Linked DNA regions of Homo sapiens. The protein of the gene in region 1 purifies or fractionates together with the protein of each later gene. This does not show direct contact. Each region holds a gene or a part of one and is shown on either strand. Other genes may lie near its edges.

Evidence for each region.
Region 2: the proteins of POPDC1 (region 1) and CPNE2 purify together in Homo sapiens (affinity purification with mass spectrometry; one large-scale study listed by BioGRID and IntAct). This does not show direct contact.
Region 3: the proteins of POPDC1 (region 1) and DCX purify together in Homo sapiens (affinity purification with mass spectrometry; one large-scale study listed by BioGRID and IntAct). This does not show direct contact.

What each region holds. Positions count from the first base shown.
Region 1 is NC_000006.12:105,096,305-105,099,296, forward strand, and holds the end of POPDC1 (popeye domain-containing protein 1), read right to left. Parts: 3' UTR 518-2,992; downstream 1-517. UniProt on the Homo sapiens protein: Cell adhesion molecule involved in the establishment and/or maintenance of cell integrity. Involved in the formation and regulation of the tight junction (TJ) paracellular permeability barrier in epithelial cells.
Region 2 is NC_000016.10:57,095,583-57,099,238, reverse strand, and holds part of CPNE2 (copine-2), read right to left. Parts: intron 1-3,656.
Region 3 is NC_000023.11:111,328,594-111,332,249, forward strand, and holds part of DCX (neuronal migration protein doublecortin), read right to left. Parts: intron 2,449-3,656; coding exon 2,311-2,448; intron 1-2,310. UniProt on the Homo sapiens protein: Microtubule-associated protein required for initial steps of neuronal dispersion and cortex lamination during cerebral cortex development. May act by competing with the putative neuronal protein kinase DCLK1 in binding to a target protein.

The DNA.
Region 1 (2,992 bases):
CCAAGGACTTGCCACTCAAGGCCAAAAGATGGGCTGTCAAGTTTCCATTCCAATATCTAGGACAGCTGATGGGAGAAAACGTGGGTTTCTCAAAGAATAGAAAGACTGTCCCCCTCATCCACCACAGAACAGATCCAGGGAGGTTTTCTGACTCCTTCATGTGACTCCTCATATTGTTGAATCTTAGGAAACTAGAAGGGAGTGAATGTTCAGATGCAATAGAAAAAAAGCTGAAGCCCACTAAGTCCCATCAATAAAACTCTGAAGGCTTCTCCATTGCTGCATCTAGTCAACACTGTCTACACTGCCTTCTGGCCATTTTTTTTTTTCACAGTCAAAGCAGCCAAGATGGCAGGACCTTTGAAGTCAGGTATGACCGACCCACAAGCACCGCCCCTGCTGGTCTGCTCAGAATACAATGGCCTGCACCAGGCCCATCCCCACAACCTTGGCCTTTGGGCATGACATTCGAACAAGCTAGATATATGTAAGAGGAATGAAATAAAAAATACACACATTTTCTAAGTAAGAAATTTATTTGATCAAATGGCAATATATGAAGATATTTTAAACTATAAGGCTCTATCCAGACAAAAAGCATCTTTTTATAAAGTAAGTGTTATCAATTTAAATGGCACCTAAAATCAAAGAATGAGTTTCCTATAAATGTCTGTATAAAGCTTTCATAAAATCCTCATGTATTTTAAAACTAGGTTGCAAGTATAACAGAAAAACCTATAAATAGTACTTAAAAGCAGGTTTCTTAAAATTTATGACACCTACAGTGTGTCACTATAGACAGAGTATTCGGGGGGCTCTGTGACAATCAAACATGGCTGCCATGAGTAAGGGAGCGTGTCCCCTGATGAGCAGAACCGAAGCAGTGATTATGCCTCAGCCTCGAGCTCCCCGCACAGCATCCTACCATTCCAAATTCTTGGGACTTTGAGTTGAGTTGAGAATTACTACAAGAGGAGGTTAGGAAACCAGGATTGGAAAGAGGGAAGGGAGAGGAAACCAAGGCATGCCAGGATCAAAGATATCTATAAAGCAGCTTTATAAATGACCAAGAAAATGGGTTTCTAAAAAACGCAAAATGGTGAGGCCTTGGGGCTGCAACGTGGCATCTGTGAAGAGGACGACGCCACGCCCGCTGGGAAGGGCTGACCTGCATGCCAGGTGCTTGGCTTGGAGCCACCACACGCAACAGCATGAAACTTTCTCTGGAGTGCCAAGTCATTACCTGGAAACACTGGGGACAGGTCAGTGTGTAGCTTATACCAGCTTTCCCCAAAGATTTTTCCAGCAACCAAGTGACTCAGCAACCAAGTGACTCTGTCTTTGGGGCCGTGATGGGAGCTGACATGGAGGAATCTGCAGCTCCAGGTTCTAAGATCAGGAGAGCTTCAGACAAGTGGGAAAACCAGATATAAAGAGGGTGACATACACACACTGTTAGCAGCAAAACGCAAAGGTGTCCAATGATTAAAATGAAATTGAGTGATAGGGAGAAATGGAGAAGATTCCAGAGTGTCAGGGATAGTAACTGAAAATAATTATATAGCACCCATTATTACTAATTTAAGATATATAAGCATCACTGCGGATTTATATAGTGTCTATGCTATTAGTTTAGTAAATATAAATATTTATGAGGGCTTTCAAAATATTTTAAATGACATATACATTCTAATATAAATATTACACTCCAGATTCATACAACTGAGTTGATGTTACATTTAAAGTAGTAGATTTGGGGTTGTATATGGAGTAACTTTTGCAGACCATTTTCTGAACTTTGATCATTCAGCTAAGTAAAGGCCAAAAAACACAGGAAGCATCTTATTGGGAACTTTGGCAGCAAACATGTTTTTATCTATGTATTTATGCATTATACAAAGATACACTTATTCATTTGTATAAATGAATTTAAAGTACTCCATAGGAGATCTTACACTTAAAACACTTTTCTGTCTTCTTATCTGCTTCTTTGAGATCAAGTCTATATGGGAGGCTTCTTCCTTAGAGGTGTGTGTTTAAAAATAGTCTCACGTTTCCCATTCAGGCTAAGTGGCTCTTTTAAGATTCCTAATCTTGAGGTTACAATCTTCACATTGAGACACTGATACACACACATACTTTAATAAAAACAGCAAATGGTCTTATATCACCTACTTTTAGCAGTGTGCTTTTAAAACAGGTTTGTTCCCAGCATTACAGAAAATAATCTCCAAACACATGCATTACTTTCTACTCAGGGAAGGATGTTACATCTAATGACTGTATAGAGTGATTTTGTAAATTAGTCTTATGCGCGTGTAAACTAAATGGGCTGCCCAACTTAACCCCAATGGTTAAAGGAAAGTAGTCTCGGCACTATGACATCACAGTTACACCTGTGCTCTCAGGTACAGGGCGAAAGTGAGAGCGAGAGCGCACGAGAGAGTTCAACCTGAGAGAGCTTTATAATTTCAAGCCTAGGCTGTCATTCACCTTTGCTTCATTTCTCCAAAACAAGCTCCTAATTTAGCTACCTGAAGAGACTGCTGCAGCAGTACAGTGAAAGCAGCCTTTTTTTGAAATAGGGTCTCACTCTGTTGCCCAGGCTGGAGTGCAGTGGTGTGATCTGTGCTCACTGCAACCTCAACCTCCCAGGTTCAAGTGAACCTCCCACCTCAGCCTTCTGAGTAGCTGGGACTACAGGTATGTACCACCACACCCAGCTAATTTTTTTTGTAGAGATGGGGTTTAGCCATGTTGCCCAGGCTGGTCTTGAACTCCTGGGCTTAAGCAATCCACCCACCTTGGCCCCCCAAAGTGCTGTGATTACATGTGTGAGCCACTGTGTCCAGTCGACAGTAGCCTTTTTACTGTGATGTCAATAAACCAACATCTGAAGATGACAGGAACTGGATTCAGAGTCTGTGTAAATTTTCTCAATGAGTGACCGAGCATGTAAATTTAACTCAAATGAAATTACTACAATAATTGC
Region 2 (3,656 bases), on another chromosome or scaffold:
TGAAGGGGGCCAGAGAGAAAGGAGTATGTCATCCTATATGATTTCACTTAGGTGCCCTTAAACATGGACAAAACAAATCTATGCTGCTGGAAGTCAGGATAGCAGTAGGACACGTGGACGGGTGTTACTGACAAGAAGGGGACACCGGGGGCTTTGGTGCTGGTCGTGTCTGTTTCTGATCTGGGTTCTGGTGACCCAGATATGTTGGTTTGTGAACAGTCATTGACTGGTCCATGTAGAATGTCTGCTCTATTTCATGTTACACTTCAATGTGGTAAAACAAAAAACAAAAAACACCAAAACCAATAATCCAGGGACTCCTCTACAAAGCCCTTCCTATTTCCCTGGTCCTTGAGAGGGAATCACTTACAATATCAGCATACTGTAACCATTGGCTTAGAAGCGTCGCCCTCACTGGAGCTTAAAGATGGAACCAAACCCTGTTTCCATTTCGTTGCTCCCAACACCCAGAGGCACAGAATGGAAGCTCGACACAAGTTTGTTGAAAATGAGGAAGAGTGAAAAGGTGAGAGGAAGAGGAACCATAACATCTTGGAATTGTAGAGGCCCGGGACTAGAGGTTCACAGAATTCCAGAATTTGGGAATTCTGGGATTTCAGAGTCATGAGTTCTTTGAGTCTCAGAGCTAAAAGACTTTAGAGTTTATCTGGCCCCACTTTCCAGCCACACAGGAACCCTGGCCACAGCCTGGCTGCCCCAACATCCTGCATCCTGGTTCTGGTGGGCAGGGTCCAGCCACAAGCCTTATTCTCTGGGGCCCTTGCCGCATGCCCATTGCTGCACCAGCTCCTGCCAGGCGACAGGCAGCCCCCGGGGAGCAGGCTGGCACTCCTGACCAGGTGGGGGCGGCACCTTGACACAAATCATTTCTGCACCGAGGCTACGGCACCGGCTGCTGTGCTCCAAAGACACCACACTCCAACAGGCAGCCAGGCCATTACGGGGATAAATACAGATGCAGACAGCATGGCGAGGAGGCTGCAGCAGGGGTTGGCCCTGAGGCCCCCCTGGGGACCCCCAGCTTCCACCAGACCACATTCAGAGGGAGGTCATTCTCTGTAGTGCCCGCTTAATCACTAAGCTCTGGCTCTTAGGGGAGGTGGCTTCCCTTGGGACACCCCCACCCCCACCCTCCCAGGCCCCAGGTTCAGCTCATCCTGCACTGGAAGGTTTGTGTCACTTATAGGGGCTGACCTAGCAGGCTGAGAGGCAGCCTCCACTGTACTTCCTGTGAGTCTAGGGACTGGGTTTTGTCCTCTCCTGCCACTCCTCCCTCCTGGGCCTCAGCTCCTTCCCCTCCGGCCTCCCAGGAAGCTCCACATGGGGATAGGCACGGAGTGCTGTGGCTCTCCGGAGACTCTGAGTACTTAGGGGACCTTGGGAGTGGATCTGGCCAGGCTCAGAGGGCAGGGGACTCCCATGGAGGAGGGAATGGGGAAAGTTGTACGTCTGAGAGAAGGTGGATTTGCCTAGGACTGAAAGACTGGGGGCTGGGGAGGTGGAGGATGTGAGGTCCCCTGGGTGGGACGTCACCTGCTGCCACTGCCTGCCCACCCAAGGGACTGAGGTGTGCTGGAGAAAGTCACCCATTCCCTATGCAACCTGGGCCATGTGTCCTAACCTCTCTAGCCTCAGTTTCTTCATACAGGAAATGGAGCTGCTGCTAACTAGAGCTGTCCCCACTACTTTCTTCATGATGTTCTTAAGGCAGCAGTGAAAAGCTGGTACACTGAAGAGGGTTGTGCACAGATGTAATCCCTCTTTCACTTGGGACTTTGGGTCTCCACCTTCCAGGAGAGCTTCCCTCACCATGCAGCCATCCATTTGGTTGTTCAACAGATGTTTCTTAAGCAGTTCCTCTGGACCAGGGACTTTGCTGTGTGCTGGAGGGGCAACCATGATCAAGACACACTCAGGCTCTGGGCATAGGAGTTCGGGATGGAGTTGGGGGAACAGAGAGGTGAGCAAATGACAAGGGCAGGAAATCTCAGAGAGTGGAAAATGTCATAAAGAGAATAAAGCAGGGTGAAGTGATTGTGATAGGGCAGTGTGGAGGAGGCCACATTTGAGCTGGGATGTTAATAGACCAGGAGCCCCAGGAGAGCAAGGCATTGGTCTCTCTCGTTCATGGCTGTATCCCAGCCATAGCTGGTGCCCAGCAGGTACTCAGTGAATATTTTTGAATGAATGAATGAATGGGCTCCTGAACCAAGCTAGGCATGTCCCCACCACAGGGCCTTTGCATGCGCTGTTTCCTCTACCTGTTCCCCAGCATGTGTAAAGGCCCTGTGGTGTGGACATGCCTAGTGTGGTTCAGAAGCCCATTCTCCCTACAACTCTACTGTATCCCTGCAGGCTTTTGTGTCTTATCAGGAGCTGAGGATATCTGGCCTGCCTGATGTGCCCTGGCTGTCCCCTCTCTAAAACACAGGAGGGAATATGCCCAACTCCCAGCAGACAACTCCTGCAATCCCTCTTTCCTTTGGTTGGACCCCAAGTCTTTTTTTTTTTTTTTTTTTGAGACATGGTCTCACTGTTTCACCGAGGTTGGAGTACAGTGGCACAATCATGGCTCACTGCAGCCTCGACCTCCTGGGCTCAAGCAATCCTCCCACCTCAGTCTCCCAAGTAGTTGGGACTACAGGCATGCACCACAACACCCAGCTAATTTTGTTTATTTTTTATTTTGGTAAAGACGGGTTTTTGCCATGTTGCCCAGGCTGGTCTTGAACTCCTGGGCTCAAGTGGTCTGACTATCTTGGCCTCCCTCAGTACTGGGATTACAGGTGTGAGCCACCACGCCCGGCTCTCCCATCAGTCTTTCAGAGACATGCCCAACCTGAGAAAAGTGTATTGTAAGAGTGCAGTGAATGCTGGGAGCTGAGCTACTGGGTTTCAAACTCTGGTTGGCCATGGGCTAGTTGAGCACCACACACTGGATGGCTTAGATTCTCTCACAGTTCTGTAGGCTACAAGTTTGAAATCCAGCTGTCAGCAAGGCCATGCTCCTTCCAGCACTCAGTATGGTAAGCCAGAGATCCCTCCAGAGACTCAAGAGGGCAAGCTCGTAATTCTCCCAGGATCCATCACTCAACATCACAGACTCATTTAACAGGAGGCTGCAAAGAGGGGCAGGTGCAGTCATTCCTCACACAAGGATTTACTGAGCACCTACAATGTGCCAGGCACTGTTCTAAGTGCTGGGACATGGCCCTAAACAAGACAGACACTGTTTGCTCTTGCCTTTTTGTGGATCTGACACCCTTTGGGGAGGGAGGCAGATAAGCTGGTGCACCAATGAGTAAAGAAGATGGTTTTAAAGAGTGGCAAATGCCCCAAGAAAAATACAACCAGGAGATGCAGCAGTGAGGAGGGATGGTGACACAATCTCACTAGTCAGTCTCATTGCAGACCTCAGAGCAAGTGTGGCCAGATAAGTAAGAAATGTTCCATGGTCGGGCACAGTGGCTCATGCCTATAATCCCAGCACTTTGGGAGACCGAGGTGGGTGGATCACCTGAGGCCAGGAGTTCAAGGCCAGCCTAACCAACATAGCAAAACCCCGTCTCTACTAGAAATACAAAAATTAGCTAGGTGTGCACCTGTGATCCCAGTTACTTGGGAGGCTAAGGCAC
Region 3 (3,656 bases), on another chromosome or scaffold:
CTCTTTCCTTTAATAAATAGAGTCTGGTTCCTCTCTCTTTGAATGTAGGTTGGACTTAGTGACTGCTTCCAATGAATATAATAAAGGAGAAGTGACAGTGTTGGCTATGGAGACTAGATCACAAAAGGCAATACATCTTGTTCTTTATTCATTCTCTTGGATCACAAACTAAGGTAGGAGATCTTGCCAACAGCCATATTGTAAGTGGATCCTACAGCCCCAGTTGAGCCTTCAGATGACTGCAGCCCCTACTAATATTTTAATGATACCCACATGAGAGACTCTGAGCCAGAACCACCTAGATAAAACACTCTAGAATTTCTTGCCCACCAAAACTGTGAGATAAAAAAAAAATGCCTTTTCTTTAAGCCACTAAGTTTTGGGGTAATGAATTTGTTTCACAGCAGGATACAAGTAATACAGGTTAGAAATCCCAGAAATAGCTACTGCTGTTTCTGAGAAATGATTAGCTAAGCAATTATTGCCAGACTTTATTAATCTTGACCAAGTGTTTTAAAGTGTATTTTTTGCAATTCTCTGCTTAAAAACTGTCAAATTTTATTCTCAGCCCAGGTGTTAAAACCTAGGTCTTTGTAGTTTCAGCAATATAAATTTGCTTAGATATAGATTTATGTGCTCTTCTGTACATTTGAACAAGATAGCATCAAGGCACATGTATTTTTTATTTCTTCAGCAAACATTATCTAAATGCTTGATTGGTCTCTAGCACCATGTTGGGTAAAATAGGTACTGTTGTGCATCTATTTATTCACAAATATTACTGGAGCATCTACTAGGGGCCAGGCACTATGCTCTGCACTGATGATATGAAAATGAACCTACCACATTACCTTTGAGGGGCTCAGCATTTAATTGGGGAAGTAGACAGGTAAACACATACTTGACAACACAGTGTGGTGAATATTACCCCAAAGATATGAATGGCATGCTATGGTATTGCAGAGACTGGAACAATTATCTCTATGTGAGGTCTTGAAGGATGAATAGGAGTTTTCAAGCAAAAAAGGCTGATGGGTTAGAGGATGGCATTCCAGGTATGGGGGAACAGGGAGTGCAAAGACATGGAAGTACTAAAAGCCTGGGTTGCCTTTTCATACTTTAATTTCCTCAACCCAAGAATAAAGAGATGGCTGGTAATATGCATGCTCCTGGCAGTCTGATGCAGGCAGTACAGGCTATTCATCTTGGCACCAGCATTTCATAGCCATCAGGCTACTCATGATGCCCCAAACTGAAGGGCCCTTTTGTTTTCCCAAGGCTCTCAGACTGCAAGAATTCTCATGATAAATTCTGAGCCTTGGGATGACAAATGTATAAGTATTTTGGACCATATAGTTTCCTTAGTGTGAAGAACCTCAAATTGTGCATAAATCTAAGCTTCTGAACTTGGACTTCTAAGGCCTTTTATTTTTGATATTTGTTATAAAAGAATGGAAGACATTGCCTCTTAGATCAGTGTCACTCAAACTGTGGGTCCAAGACAAGATAGGGTTCACATCAGAATGCAAATCAACATACTGCTGCCTTCATCAATAAAATCAGGCTCTGAAAAAAAGGCAGCTGAGCTAAATGGTTTGCTTAATGGCATAGTTTATTTACATTTGGCACAAGCTCCTAATCTTGCCACAGACTGACTGGTAATAAATAGTTCATGGGTTGGCAGTGATCAATAGACGACATGTTTTAGATAACTCACTATCCACTAAATAGAATCTTCTATGGCAAATCTCTTTGTTTTCTTTTAGAACCTGGTCTGTGCTTTACTTTCCGGTTGTGAGGTTTATACAATTTATCTTGTCCCCCTATTTATATGGCATATATATGTAGTGTACTTGTTTCCCTTTTTGTTTTGGCTTCTAATTACTTCAGAGTCAAATTTGAAGCTCAAGTGAGTCAACTATGTTGACACTTTGGGGTGTTGTTTTTTATATTCTTTTTCTTGATTCTGATTTTTAATTTCAGGTTTATGGTTAATTTGATTATTCCATTGAATATGTTTTTGCCACATGATGTTGAAGATGATGAAAATGATGACAACCATGAAAATAAACATTACAGCAAGCATAGACAATGGGCCAGGCTTCTGGTTTGCATCCATTTGAATGGAATAATGGTTGTAGCTGTGCCTCCATGACTCCAAACAAGTTTGACTGTTTTAGTCCCTGAATTGATAGAATAGGGTTTCATGGAGACACAGTGGTGTTCATGAGGAACTGATTCCTCTGCATGCAGAAAGTATTGTCCTCCATAAATGAAGTCAGCGTGCACAGTTAGGAAAAGAGCACTCACCGTCTTGGTCGTTACCTGAGTCAGCTGGAGACTTGCTTCGGCGCATAGGACCAGGGCTCTTGGCTGAAGTCTTCTGAGGTGTTGGGGATGCCTTTGGGCCAGCTGTGGCTGATGGGTTTCCCTTCATGACTCGGCATTCTGGGGCAAAAGGACACAGACAGCTTAGTAGAGGATAAAACAGGCTCAGCATGTTATCAGCCTCTGGAAACCGCAATAACCATCACAGGCCAAAGGACCTAAATGGGTCAGGACTACAATGTGGTCCTTATTATTAGTAGGAGCCATGGTTCTGGGGAGGGAGGCATTAGGGAAACCTTCAAAAGCCACCTGGGCTAAGCTAGGTGTTTAAGCCCCTGAATTACGAAAACAAGGGCAAGAGTCCATAAACAGGTCAAGTAGGCAATTAAATAGTCAATTCAATCATTTATGGACAAGCTAGCTATGTCTCAGAATAGCACCTATTGATATAATGTTTAATTAATTTCCCTGAATTAGAGATTAACAACTCAGAGGTTACAGCTACACAGATGAAACATCCATTGAGTAATTTGAAGGAGAGGTAGAGAGCTACCACTTACTATTACATGCCACACGTTGATAGACACATGATGGATATCATGTCACTTTATATAAATAAGCACTATGACCACCACCATCTTGCATTTATCAAGTTCTTTTCGATTTCCCATGTATGTTATTGCCATCCCTTATGGGGGGTTAATGAATAAATGGGCCAGCAGTGACTCTGCCACTAAAAACTTAAGAAAGCTTGCTGGTGTGTGGGAGAGTCTGCCAAATGTTCTTGTATTTGCCCTAGCCTCAGTCTGACACCTTTGGAACACCCTTTCTATGCAGGTCACTCAGCATCCCCTTCTATGGTCATTTTGGGCACTAATAGTGCTAATTTATTAGAAGGATTATTATTCTCATTTTGCTGATGAGAGTACAAAAAACTTAACCCCTTTGCCTAGGGCCACAAAACAAGAAATTAGTAAAACAAGGTCTAAAAGTCAAGTCCCCTGAGTTCCAGTTTAGTGCTCTTTCTACTACAGTTTTTCCAACCTTGTGCTGTGATGCACAAAGGGGAATCAAACAGCAGAGTAGAGGATATAGTCTCTCCTTTCCTTTAAACACTTTCTTGTTGCCTCCTACTTAAAGGTGCATTGAAATATAAATTAAACAGAAAGATTAGAGGAGCTTTTCTGGTAAATTGAATATTTTAGGAAACTGAGTTAAGCAGAAAGCCCCCTTTTGTTTGTTTCACTTCTTGTTTTGGTTGGTGACCTTTAGTGATCACTGTCCAGAGCTGAAGATACAGAAGGTATAGGAAATTGGACATAACCTGA